Homo sapiens: one gene and its partners. The protein of the gene in region 1 purifies or fractionates together with the protein of each later gene. This does not show direct contact. Each region holds a gene or a part of one and is shown on either strand. Other genes may lie near its edges.

The links. The genes of interacting proteins can lie anywhere in the genome.
Region 2: the proteins of HINT3 (region 1) and EDC3 purify together in Homo sapiens (co-immunoprecipitation; one large-scale study listed by IntAct). This does not show direct contact.
Region 3: the proteins of HINT3 (region 1) and UBP1 purify together in Homo sapiens (affinity purification with mass spectrometry; one large-scale study listed by BioGRID and IntAct). This does not show direct contact.
Region 4: the proteins of HINT3 (region 1) and TMEM38B purify together in Homo sapiens (affinity purification with mass spectrometry; one large-scale study listed by BioGRID and IntAct). This does not show direct contact.

Annotation. Positions count from the first base shown.
Region 1 is NC_000006.12:125,959,770-125,963,269, reverse strand, and holds part of HINT3 (adenosine 5'-monophosphoramidase HINT3), read right to left. Parts: intron 1-3,500. UniProt on the Homo sapiens protein: Exhibits adenosine 5'-monophosphoramidase activity, hydrolyzing purine nucleotide phosphoramidates with a single phosphate group such as adenosine 5'monophosphoramidate (AMP-NH2) to yield AMP and NH2.
Region 2 is NC_000015.10:74,686,025-74,689,524, reverse strand, and holds part of EDC3 (enhancer of mRNA-decapping protein 3), read left to right. Parts: intron 1-2,345; exon of another isoform or gene 2,346-2,434; intron 2,435-3,500. UniProt on the Homo sapiens protein: Binds single-stranded RNA. Involved in the process of mRNA degradation and in the positive regulation of mRNA decapping. May play a role in spermiogenesis and oogenesis.
Region 3 is NC_000003.12:33,409,406-33,412,905, forward strand, and holds part of UBP1 (upstream-binding protein 1), read right to left. Parts: intron 3,423-3,500; coding exon 3,317-3,422; intron 2,283-3,316; coding exon 2,176-2,282; intron 197-2,175; coding exon 44-196; intron 1-43. UniProt on the Homo sapiens protein: Functions as a transcriptional activator in a promoter context-dependent manner. Modulates the placental expression of CYP11A1. Involved in regulation of the alpha-globin gene in erythroid cells.
Region 4 is NC_000009.12:105,701,041-105,704,540, reverse strand, and holds part of TMEM38B (trimeric intracellular cation channel type B), read right to left. Parts: exon of another isoform or gene 2,898-3,500; intron 1-2,897. UniProt on the Homo sapiens protein: Intracellular monovalent cation channel required for maintenance of rapid intracellular calcium release. Acts as a potassium counter-ion channel that functions in synchronization with calcium release from intracellular stores.

The DNA of each region.
Region 1 (3,500 bases):
AATACCTTATCACTAGCTTCACGGATGTCAAGAATGGCAAGACATCTATTTTTTGTTGGGAAAAAGCTGCCAGCGTGGACCCAGCAGATGGAGTGTGGCTCTGAAGCAGTGTTTCTCAACCAGAGGTGGAAATACATAGACGCCCTTTTGATCACGCATACTGCTAAAATTTGGTGCGCCGAGATCGGGGATGCTAACCATCTTCCAACAGGGGACAACGTTCAAGTTAAATTGGCACTGAGTTATTTCCTCAGTATAGTTCCAAGCAAGGTAAATTCTAGTCCAGTGTTACTCAATTACTTTTTCATTATTTTTTATCTAATGAGCCTTTTAAGACTTTTTTTTCTTCTAATCCCATCTCCATGAGATTTTAATACCACAGCTACACTCTCTGTTTATGTATATCTGTGCCTCATACATGAAAAAGTAAGATATTGCCCCACCACCACCAAGAACCAATTTTCACCCCTTTGGGAGTGTCATCTGCCCCATTAAGAATGCATGGTTCAGCCTTTGCTTAGTTTTAAATCTGCAGTATACAATTAGACAACACCATATGGAGGTTTATGGAGTGAAGAATCTTCTACAGCTTTTGCTGGAAAGGTTTGCCAGACTAACCCCTCATGATGCTGGTAACTCCAATTTTTCCAAATGGAAATTTTTCTCTTTTGTACCTGAATTACACTTTATATAAACCCAACAGTTTCTAAATGTTTGCAATGAATATATTTGAATGAGTATATGAATGTATGATGTAAACCATCGAATTATGTTATGTAGTTATTCTTTTTAAAAAGATTAATCTTTACCCTTTAATGAGTGAGCTCTTGTACATCAAGTCATCTTAGATTCAATTTGAAAAAGATACACAACCTTTGGGAGCACTATTATACACGCATCTGTATCTTACGTTTTGTATTATACGGTTATGTGTGTGTGATATATATATATATATATGTGTGATATATATATATATATATGTGTATATATATATGTATGTATATATATATATATGTGTGTATATATATATATGTGTATATATATATATATATATATGTGTATATATATATATATATATATGTGTATATATATATATATATATATATGTGTATATATATATGGGTTTCCATCCACGATTCCTGGCTTATAACTCCCAATGCCCTTGTTACAGTCTTTTGTTACCATGTCGAGGCATTTTAGGCCTCAGAGACAGGCCTCAGAAAAAGAATCTCTCTCACAATCTCTCTGCCCTTCTTTTGCCCTCCCCTCACCTGCCCAAGTCAGGACTATAATCTTCCCTGACCTTTCTGATTGTGGGTCATAAAACCCTCATTTCTGAAGGGATTCTGCCTCATACCCTGGAGGAAGGAAAGCTTCACAGAGAGGCCAAGAAGAATCTGGACAGGCCTTGCTGGGTTTCCCCACTCAGTCTACTAGTATTAGATCATACCCTTTTTGTCCAGTCACATTAATACAGAATTGTCAGTCAGGCCTATCCAATGAAGACTCCATAAAAGGCCCCAGAGAACAGAGTTTAGAGAGCTTCTGAATAGCTGAACTCATGGAGGCTCCTGGGAGAGGACACGCCTGAGGAGGACATGGAAGCTCTGCCCCCTTTTCCCCATACTTTGGGCTATTCATCTCTTCAGCAGCATCCTTTGGTATATCCTCTATAATAAACCAGTAAACCTAAGTGTTTCCCTGAGTTCTGTAAGCCACTCTAGCAAGCTTTAGAACCCAAAGAGAAGCTTGTGGGATCCCCAACTTCAAGCTGGTCGGTCAGAAGTTCCAGAGGCCTGGACTTGCAACTAGTGGGAAGGGCAGGCCAGTCTTGGGGACTGAGTCTTCAACCTGCGGGATCTGATGCTATCATCAGGTAGATAGTATAAGAATTGAAATGGAGGACAACCAGCTGGTGTCTGCTGCAAAACTGATTGTTTGCTTGGTGTGTGGGGGAAAACCTCCATACATTTGGTCACAGAAGTGTTCTGTGTTGATTGCTGTTGTTGAATGGGAAAACAAAAAAAGCACAGTTTGTGTTTTTCCACTGACAATGGGCTATTGTATATATTCCCCGTTTCCCTAATTTAGGGTGTAAATTAGTTGAAAGTACTGATCATGTCTTATTTCTACCATGAAAATATCCCCAGTCTCTTCATATTGTTTACTTTGTTCCTAACCAAGAAAAATTCTCACCTTGGATGTGATAGAAGTCTGGATCCCACCCCTTTTGATGACTATTTTCAGACAAAGCTTTCTACTGCTACTAGTATCTATTTTCTATTAGTTTCATTATTGGAACTGCAGAATACAAAATTTAAAAGCAGTTTCTAAGGATCTACTAAATATTGAACTCTGAGTTTAAAAATGCACTTTACCTCTCTTTAGCCTACTTTTATATTTAGTAAAATAAAGGGAGACTGAAGAGGCAGAACTAGGTCCCTTCTGACTCTATGGGTCAGTCCAACAAAGGTCTGCAAACAGAAAACTGATGTGCGTATTCTTTCTCCCTGTCAGGTGCTGTCTTTACTTCCTTCTCCTATTCAGCATATATTCCATGGTCTACCACTTCAGCCACTTGCTTGCCCTAACTTCTTTTTTTTTCCCCCCCCCCAGAGAGAGTCTTGCTCTGTCACCCAGGCTGGAGTGCAGCGGCGCGATCTTGGCTCACTGCAACCTCCACCTCCTGGATTCAAGCAGTTCTCCTCCCTCTGCCTCCCAAGTAGCTGGGATTACAGGTGCCTGCCACCACACCCAGCTAATTTTTGTATTTTTAGGAGAGATGGGGTTTCACCATATTGGCCAGGCTGGTCTCGAACTCCTGACCTCGTGATCCGCCTGCCTCAGCCTCCCAAAGTGCTGGGATTACAGGCGTTTGCCACTGCGCCCGGCTCCATAACTTCTTAACTGTGTCTCACTACACTTCTATAACAACCACATGGCAAAATCCCAACCCTGGGTCAATACAACTGCCTACCTTGTGTAATCTCAGCCTTTGGCTGCTGCTGGAAAGTGGGAAGAAAATCACACAACTAAGCAGACTGGTATGACCTGAAATTGAATGTCCTCAACCTCACGTGACCCGCTGTACAACAATCCTTGTTTCCCTAATTCTCTCTCCTAGCCTTCACAGGAGCTACTTCAAACCTTTTACTTGTAAATAACCATATAACCATATAATTGCTCCTTCTCCTTTTTCAAGGCTTAACCCAAATGTCACCTGCTTAGTGCAGATTTTCCTGACTAAAATTTTAAAACTGCATCCCCTTCCTCTTTATTTTCTGCCATCTAATAAACTATAAATTTTACTTATTGTTTTGCTTATTATCCTTTTCTGCAACGACAATGTGAGCTCCACAAGGGCAAGGAGTTTTGCATGTTTTGTTTACGGCTGTATCCCCATGCCTCCAACAGTGCCTGGCACACAGAGAGTGAGGAATGAGTTTCCTCTTTCCCAGGGTCAACATTCTACCCGCCGGGCCATTTTAAACCTCTCTCTA
Region 2 (3,500 bases), on another chromosome or scaffold:
AAGAAATGGAGGGAGAAGGAAGACAAATAAGACTAAATGAACTTTGGTAGCAAGTTCTTGACTGAATAGTAATTCACAACATCTCTGAATTCAGTAGTCATTACAATTTTAGGAATAATTTATTGGGAGAATAACAGTATCAATGAAGCAAGAGTAAATAAGAAGTATGTTTAAGAAAATACCAAAACCATTGCACCCCACCAGAATGAGTAAGTTGAAGAGAACAATAGTACCAAGTTTTGGCAAGATGAGGAGCAGAAAGAACTCACGTATGGTGGGTTGTATAAATGTAGATGGTAATACAAAATGGTACAACCACTTTGGAAAACTGTTCAGTGGTTCCTAATAAAGTCATAAATATAACATGACTTCCTGTGTTATATGCCCAGTAGAAATGGATGTATTTGTCCATCGCAGAAATATACTGTATACAGTTTAAGAATATTATTTGTAATAAGTCAGAACTAGAAATAACCCAACTATGTATCAGCAGTAGAATGGATAAATACATTGAGGCATGCTTACAGAAAACAGCACAGCTATGAGAAAGAATAAACTTCTGATACATGCAACAATGGGGATGAATCTCACAAATGTACTTTTTTTTTTTTTTTTTTTGAGACAGCATCTCGCTCTGTCACCCATACTGGAGTGCAGTAGCAGGATCTTGGCTCACTGCAACCTCCGCCTCCCCAGTTCAAGCGATTCTTGTGCCTCAGCCTCCTGAGTAGCTGGGATTACAGGCATGTGCCACCACGCCCAGCTAATTTTTTGTATTTTTAGTAGAGACAGGGTTTTGCCATGTTGGCTAGATTGGTATTGAACTCTTGACCTCAAGTGATCCACCCGCCGTGGCCTCCCAAAGTGCTGGGATTACAGGCATGAGCCACCATGCCTGGCCTCACAGATGTACTTTTGAGCAAAAGAAGACAAACACTCTGAAAGAGAACCTTTATGATTCTGTTTATGTGAAGCTCAAAATCAGGCTCAAATAATCTTTCATGATAGATGTCAGAATAATAACTACCTGTAGGAGGACACAATGGAGCCTTTTGAGGTGTTGGAAATAGTCTGTCTTGTTTTGAGTGGTGGTCACATGGGTGAATTGATATGTAAAATTTCAGGGAGGTGTACACTTAAAATATGTAGACTGACTTACTGTATATGTTATACCTTGATAGAAAAGTAGAAAATAAAAGACAAGATTGGTTCCTTGTAGCTCCTGTATCTCCTGTACTTCTTTTGACGTGGAGGTGTTAGCTGTATAATTGATGGAGCCCCTTCCCTAGTCCGATTAGGAACCCAGTTGATGGGCACTGTACTTGTTTTAGATTTACTGTTTTCTGTAAATAGCATAATTTTCTTTATAGAATAAACCTGTTTGAGGAGTTTTGAATAATGCTATTTTACCAAGGGAAGTTTCTGAGGAAAGGGAAGTTTGTTACACATTCAGTGGTTATATTTTTAAAAGTTTCTATTAATATTAACTACATAGAAGAACACTTATAAACGAGTATCCACATTTTCAAAGTGTTAAAAATTCTATTCAGTTACTACTACCATAATATAAACTTGAATGCACAACATCAGTGTCTTAAAGATATATGTTAAATAAAACAGTAAAAGCCTTTTCATATCTGGTTAATTTCTGGTGCTTTTTATTCTGCATCTATCTAAGCATCTGAGTAGAATTATGATGGATTATAAATGATAGGAAAGGAAACTCATGCTTTTGTGACATTAGGCAAAGGTTGATCAGGAAGGGAAAAGAAGCCTAAAATGTGTGTATTTTGTGCTTTTTTACCATCATCATTATTGTTGAAATTGTGTTGCATTGAAAATTTACCCAAGGGCCAGGCACAGTGGCTCATGCCTGTAATCCTAGTGCAGAGGCTGAGGTGAGCAGATCACCAGAAGGCAGGAGTTCGAGATCAGTCTGGCCAACATGGTGAAACCCCATCTCTACTAAAAATACAAAAATTAGCTGGGTGTGGTGGCGGGCGCCTGTAGTCCCAGCTACTCAGGAGGCTGAGGAAGGAGAATTGCCTGATTGAACCTGGGAGGCAGAAGTTGCAGTGAGCCAAGATTGCGCCACTGCACTCTAGCCTGGGCGACAGAGCAAGGCTCTGTTTCATTCTATAATAAATGTAACAAAAAAAAGCCTGTATGAGCCTGCTAATTCATTGTTCTTTTAATCTTCGGTTCTGTCCGCATAGTTTTATGATACTGGCTCAGTTAGATCACTAGAGAACTATCTAGAGTTTGATTAATCCCTAGAGCTGGACTCTTTCAGACTTAGTGTTTCTAATGGGGCATACTGTTTTTTGTTTTTTTTTTTGAGACAGGGTCTTGCTGTGTTGCCCAGCCTGGTCTTGAATTCCTGGACTCAAGTGATGCTCCTGCCTTGGCTTCCCAAACTCCTGGAATTACAACTGTGAGCCACTGCACCCAGCCAGGAGTGCTTTATTTTTATTTATTTTTTATTTTTTTCTAGACGGAGTCTTGCTCTGTTGCCCAGGCTGGAGTGCAGTGGTGCGGTGTCGGCTCACTGCAGGCTCCGCCTCTTGGGTTCAAGCAGTTATCCTGTCAGCCTCCTGAGTAGCTGGGATTACAGGTGCATGCCACCATGCCGTCCACGTCGGCCTCCCAAAGTGCTGGGATTATAGGCGTGAGCCATTGCGGCTGGCCTGGAGGAGTGCTGTATATGCTTTTTTGCCCCTTTCCCTTCATTTATGTATTTATTTTGAGACAAAGTCTTGCTCTTGTTAGCAGGCTGGAGTGCAGTGGCGCAATTTCTGCTCACTGTATCCTCTGCGTCTTGGGTTCAAGTGGTTTTCCCACCTCAGCCTCCTAAATAGCTGGGATTACAGGCACCCACCACCACACCTGGCTAATTTTTGTATTTTTAGTAGAGATGGGGTTTCACCATGTTGGCCAGGCTGGTCTCAAACTCCTCAGGTGATCCACCTGCCTCGGCCTCTGAAAGTGCTGGGATTATAGGAGTGAGCCACCGTGGCTGGCCTATTTAATTTTTTTTGAGATGGAGTCTTGTTCTTGTTGCCCAGGCTGGAGTGCAATGGTGTGATCTCAGCTCACTGCAACCTTCGCCTCCCAATTTCAAGTGACTCCCCTGCCTCAGCCTCCCAAGTAGCTGGGATTACAGGCATGCACCACCATGCCCGGCTAATTTTTTTTTTTTGAGACCGAGTCTTGTTCTCGTTGCCCAGGCTGGAGTGCAATGGCACGATCTCAGCCCACTGCATCCTCCGCCTCCCGGGTTCAAGCGATTCTCCTGCTTCAGCCTCCTGAGTAACTGGGATTACAGGAACATGCCACCGCATTTGGCTAATTTTTGTATTTTTAGTAGAGATGGGGTTTCACCTTGTTGGTCAGGCTGGTCTCGAACTCCTGACCTTGTGATCCACCTGCCTCAGCCTTCCAAAGTGCTGGGATTACAGGCGTGAGCCACTGCGCCCGGCCAATTTTGTATTTTTAGTAGA
Region 3 (3,500 bases), on another chromosome or scaffold:
AAACTGAGCCTTAATTACAGAAAACCCGGGTTCTCTGTCTTACCTTAAAAACTTTGATTTGGCAGCTAGCTGAGTGTAGATGATCTGTGTATTCTCCATTTTCATTCTGCTTAAAGGTGTCAACCTGGATCCTAAAGGGCACTCCCTTTTCACCTCCGTGCTTCCGTGGAGTAAATTCTGTGCTGATGCAGTGTACCTATAAAACGATTCAGGCTGAAATGGATTCAAAGAACTTCCACTGGTTATTTTTCTATTTTGTTCCCTCTTGAGTGACCTGACACCACTATAAATTCAAGATCCTTTAAAATAAACTCATCACACATATTAGCCAAATTATCTATGAACCTAATTGTTTTTAAGATATGGCTTCCCTCTCACAAATCCAACTGAGCCTCTCCAGACTTTCTGAGCTCTTGCCCATCACAGTGCCTCTCCTCTAATGCAGGACTTGGGTCCAATCAGGGGTACAACACTACAGTAGCTTCCTATGTATACTGCCCACCTCCACCTTGGACTGTCTGCTCATCTCAGACCCAGGGTACTAAGCCCTGTTCAATCCACAGCAATCTTCACTTCATTGTTTAGAGCTTCTGTTGTTTGCCCTCTACTGCCATTACCCCTATTCTACCCAGCCAACTATCTTACTGCTGTTCCTACAGATGCCAATTTGTGATACTTTGCCTGGGGAAATTTTACAGTCCAGAAAACCCACTACCCATCCTATTCTGTATCCATCTAAACTCTTTGGTCAACTCTTCAAAGTCCATTCAGGATCCAGAGGGCAATACTCATCTTCCACCACTCCTGCCCTGTCTCCTAATACCCACCCTGGATGACAGCCTTAGGGTTTCACACAGAGTTAACAGCAAGACCTTGGTCATTTCTGACTGCTGCACATCCCCCTCTTCTAATGACTCACTATTAAAACTGATCTCTGCAATATGACAACACAACCTGATATGTAAAGCCAGGTCTTGTATCACTTTGATTTACTACATAACTAGTTGCCTTATAGACAAACACCAACAGTATGAGTTTACATCAATATTCAACGGATATAAACCATGCCCCCAGGGATTAACTGATGGAGAATAATATTGGTAGAATACCAAAATGCAAAATACAAATGATTTTTTACAGTTCATGCAAAGCATAGCTTATGAAGGCTGGTCAGCAAGTAAGTGGTTTTCCTTTTCTATATATTACCTACCTGGTAGTTTAAATTCCACCACATACAAATTTGAACATTGTGGGTATTAGAATCACTATTTTTTTTAAACACAGAATAATGATATTATAGTTACTTTTTAAAACTCATCTCTTAGAGACATGATATTTATGGATGAAATGGTATGCCTGAAACTTGCTTTAAAGTACTCTAACAGGCTGGGCACAGTGGCTCACACCTGTAATCCCAGCACTTTAGGAGGACAAGGCAGGTAGATCACTTGAGGTCAGGAGCTCAAGACCAGTCTGGCCAATATGGTGAAACCCCCATCTCTACTAAAAATACAAAAATCAGCCAGGCATTGTGGTGCACACCTGTAATCCCAGCTACTCAGGAGGCTGAGAGATGAGAAGAGCTTGAATCTGGGAGGCGGAGATTGCAGTGAGCCGAGATCATGCCACTGTATTCCAGCCTGGGTGACAGAATGAAACTCCATCTCAAAAAAAAAAAAAAAAAAGTGCTCCAAGAATAACTAAAAGGGGGCGGAAACTACTAAAAACTGCTAAAGCCAGGTGATGGTTACATGGACAATTAGTCATCATTATTATCCTATTTGTAGAGGTTTGAATTTTTCAGTATTAGAATGTTTTAAAAATAATGCTAGAAGGAATTTTAAAACCTCAATCTTTTTTCAATCGTATCCTTTTAAATAGCAGCTTGTGTTCAAGAGAAATACATCTCATGAAAAATAGACATTTTCATTATTGGGACTACTAGTGGTAAAAATAACATTTGAATAATGCTTTACATATCATAGAATGTCTTCATATATGTTAGTTTAAAATAGGGTGAACTTACTAGATTAAACCTAACTATGTATATAGAAAGACACTACAACATAGTTTATAAATAGACATTTAAAGGAAATGATACTGTATCAAAAATTCAATCCTACCATGACCTAAATAACTAGGTTAGTAAGCTTCTAATAATGTAAAAATCCAAACCTGAATGAAAGCAGAGGTGCGTTTTGCTGGGTCCCACAGAAATTCAACCGCATTTAACTGGCTTGGATTCGTCCTTGTGTCAATTATTCCCACAGACATTGGAATATCTATGTTTTAAAAAGAAGTTACATAAAAACATCCACTTTAAATAACTTAAAAAACTTACAACTTACTATATTATGTTCTAATGAAATAACTGTAACTGCTTTGAACTCTGTCTTTCAATGGTCTCCATGATCAACTTCTTCAACATCGAAACCCACCCTAAACGAATATCATCGTTTCCCCTACCATGGTTTGTATTTCATTTTTTTTAAGAATATGATAAGGCTGAGCGTGGTGGCTCACGTAATCCCAGCACTTTGGGAGGCCAAGGCAGGTGGATAACCCGAGGTCAGGAGTTTGAGACCAGCCTGGCGAACATGGTGAAACCCCGTCTCTACTAAAAATACAAAAATTAGCCAGACGCAGTGGCGCGTGCCTGTAGTCCCAGCTACTCAAAAGGCTGAGGCACAAGAATCACTTGAACCCAGGAGGCGGAGGTTGCAGTGAGCCAAGATCGCGCCACTGCACTCCAGCCTGGGCAACAGAGCGAAACTCCGTCTCAAAAAAAAAAAAAAAAAAAAGATAGATGGTTTACAATTAAACGGTTTCAAAATCATAAAATTCCAGGTTCACATTAGTTTAGCACCAAAAAGCTACTTGACGTTTTAACTATAAAACAACTCTCTCGGTTCTTTATAATACGAGGATGGGAAAAAAATAAAAAGAAAATAATGTATATACATACATACATATATATGTATGTGTGTGCGTATGTATATATAGAAAACAACTCTCAAGACACAAGATCCTAGAGGGGCATGGTGGCGCGCACCTGCAATCCTAGCTACTTGGGAGGCTAAGGCAGGAAAATCACTTGAAGACGGGAGGTAGAGGTTGCAGTGAGCCAAGACTGTGCCACTGCACTTATCCTGGGCGAGAGAGCAAGGCTCTGTCTCAAAAAAAAAAAAAAAAGACACAAAATCCACAAACACCAAAACTTTCCCCACACAAGTAATTCATGATGCCAACACAACACATTACTGGCTATAGCTAAACAATACCCTCATCTCCATGGTCTTTTGATCACTGCCTGTACCTAAATCAAGAAGTCTGTCTCCTGGGCGATTCCACTTCCATCCTTCAAGTTGCTGATGCTCTGTGTATTGTAGCCGTCTGTCATGGAATACAACCCTTATGATGCTCTGTGGAATAAGTGCGGAAAATGAGTACTTTTAAACTGCTCCAGCTAAAATGCAGGACCATTTCTACTTCTTATGTGT
Region 4 (3,500 bases), on another chromosome or scaffold:
ACAACAACAACTGGCTTATATTTTTTAAATGTCAAAGTCAAAAAAACACCCAAAAAAAAGGCCAATAAAACATTCTAGATATGAACAATGTCTCTAACTCAAACTATATTTATTTATTTACTTAATTACTTATTTATTTATTTTGAGACAGGGTCTCGCTCTGTTGCCAAGGCTGGAGTGCAGTGGAGTGATCTCGGCTCACAGCAACCTCAGCATCCTGAGTTCAAGCACGTCTCATGCCTCAGCCTCCCAAGTAGCTGGGATTATAGGCACGCGCCACCACACCAGGCTAATTTTTGTATTTTTTTTTTATACTTTAAGTTTTAGGGTACATGTGCACATTGTGCAGGTTAGTTACATATGTATACATGTGCCATGCTGGCGCACTGAACCCACTAACTCGTCATCTAGCATTAGGTATATCGCCTGATGCTATCCCTCCCCCCTCCCCCTACCCCACAACAGTCCCCAGAGTGTGATATTCCCCTTTCTGTGTCCATGTGATCTCATTGTTCAATTCCCACCTATGAGTGAGAATATGCGGTGTTTGGTTTTTTGTTCTTGCGATAGTTTACTGAGAATGATGATTTCCAGTTTCATCAGAATCTACAATGAACTCAAACAAATTTACAAGAAAAAAACAAACAACCCCATCAAAAAGTGGGCGAAGGACATGAACAGACACTTCTCAAAAGAAGACATCTATGCAGCCAAAAAACACATGAAAAAATGCTCATCATCGCTGGCCATCAGAGAAATGCAAATCAAAACCACAATGAGATACCATCTCACACCACTTAGAATGGCAATCATTAAAAAGTCAGGAAACAACAGGTGCTGGAGAGGATGTGGAGAAATAGGAACACTTTTACACTGTTGGTGGGACTGTAAACTAGTTCAACCATTGTGGAAGTCAGTGTGGCGATTACTCAGGGATCTAGAACTGGAAATACCATTTGACCCAGCCATCCCATTACTGGGTATATACCCAAAGGACTATAAATCATGCAGCTATAAAGACACATGCACACGTATGTTTATTGCGGCATTATTCACAACAGCAAAGACTTGGAACCAACCCAAATGTCCAACAATGACAGACTGGATTAAGAAAATGTGGCACATATACACCATGGAATACTATGCAGCCATAAAAAATGATGAGTTCATGTCCTTTGTAGAGACATGGATGAAATTGGAAATAATTTTTGTATTTTTAGTAGAGACAGAGTTCCACCATGTTGGCCACGCTGGTCTGGAACTCCTGGCCTCAAGTGATTCACCCGCCTCAGCCTCCCAAAGTGCTGGGATTACAGGCATGAGCCACCACACCTGGCTTCCAACTCAAATTATTTTATTTTAATGTACTGGCATTTAGAAGAGAAAAAAGAAATTTCTCTGTCCTACCTTAAGATGTTTGAAATACGCTATCAATAGAATTATTTTCCCCAAAATTCTTAGCAACATTTGTCACATTGAGACCTAAATCTAATTCCAAATATAAGATGTTTAAAATGCAAATAATTACATATGAACTTTAATATCAAAATGCTTTCAGCCAGGCATGGTGGCTCACACCTGCAATCACAACACTTTGGTTTGGGAGGCCAAGCTGGGAGGATTGCTTGAGTCCAGGAGGTCGAGACCAGCTTGAGCAACATAGCAAGACTCCCATCTCCACAAAATATAAAAAATTAGCCAGGCTTGATAGTACACACCTGTAGTCTCAGCTACTCAGGAGGCTAAAGTGGAAGAATCACTGAGCCCAGGAGTTCCAGGCTGCAGTGAGCCATGATAGTGCCAATGCACTCAGCCTAGACAACACAGTGAGACCCTGTATCAAAAATAAATAAATAAATAAATAAATAACTTCATCATGAAACGAAAGCTACAAAGAAAAATAAAGTCACACTGTACTTCCATAAATACATTTAAAATCACATCTACAAAATAATCCCAAATTCTGGCAAAATGAATCATTAGACTACGCTTAATAGTTTTATGAACTTACAGTTATAACAAAAGTTAGAAAGATATTTTGTTAATGCACTGCATACATGACTTCTTTATTTTCTTGTACTCAGTCTATTTTAGTTCCAGAGTGTGTCCCTGTTTTTAAGAACTACTTGCACTGTAGCTATTTTCAAAACAGTTGACATTCAACTTGCTAGTGGCTGACATAACTTCTAGAAAGAAGCATGGGAATGTTCTAGCCTTCTTAAAACTTCAACTCTACATATTACATATTTTTAAATTGCATATTAGTTTACTTTTGCTTTAGTCTTTCCCCTTTATAGATTTATCTTCTTTTTAAAAAGAGAGAAAAATGAACAACATATCCTATATGCCTCAAGTATGCTTTTTCATCAAAATTATTTAAAAATAATCACGTAAGCAACAGAGGCTTACAGATTATCTATGACACAATTCAAGGAGTTTTAGATCAAGTTTGGGGGATTTTTTTGGTTTTTAAATTTTTTTAAATTTTTTCAGAGATGGGGTCTCACTATGTTGGCCAGGCTGGTCTCAAACTTCTGGCCTCAAGTGATCCTCCTGCCTCAGCCTCCCAAAGTGCTGGGATTACAGGCGTGAGCCACTGCACCCAGCCTTAGATCAAGTTTGAATCATAGTGGGCCAGGTAGATCCACATACTCACCTTGCAGTTATTCCCCAGTTCCTTAATGAGTAATTAGAACAGACATACTTGGCAACTGACTCAATGCCCATATAGATTCTCTGATTTATGGCATAAGGAGCAATATGGTATAATGGATCACATAGAAGCCCCTAGGTATTCCTCTCCTCACCAACAAAGTAACCAAAAACAATACCACAGAAATTGGTGCCACAACCAAAGACAAAAAGGTGGTGATAGCTACCACATTCCACTAACTTACCTGTTTGATCTAAATATAAGACAGATGGATCTTGGAGAATAGCTATGAATTATAAACACAGAAAGGTCGTGACTGTAATTGCAGCTAGTATTCAAGATGTAGTATTTTTACGGGGTCAAATCAACACAATTCTTATAACTTGGAAGCAAATGCTTTTTTCTTCCTATTAATTTGCAAAAAATCTCAGAAGCACTTTGTGCTTTGTTCAACCATTACAGTCTTGCTTCAGGTCTATGTTAACACTCTTGCTCTCTAAAATAGTCCAGAGATTTTGATCACATTGAGAAATCACACATCACACTGATCTGCTGCACTGATGACATTACACTGACCGGGTCTGAAGACTGGCAAGTAGCAAGTACTTTAGTTATCTTAATAAGATATATGCAAACCAGAAAGTAGGAAGTTCAAACCCTACTCCTGGGTATCTGTCCAGTCAGGAGATAGAAAATACCATTATTTAAATAGAACTCAGTAGGTATAAAATTGTTAACTAGGTTATTGAAAAGGCAAAAAGTAAATACTACATTATCACAGAGTTCAGTTCCAGAAAGCAGTTACTACTCTGGGGGAACAATAGGCTGAAATTATTAAAATTTAGAA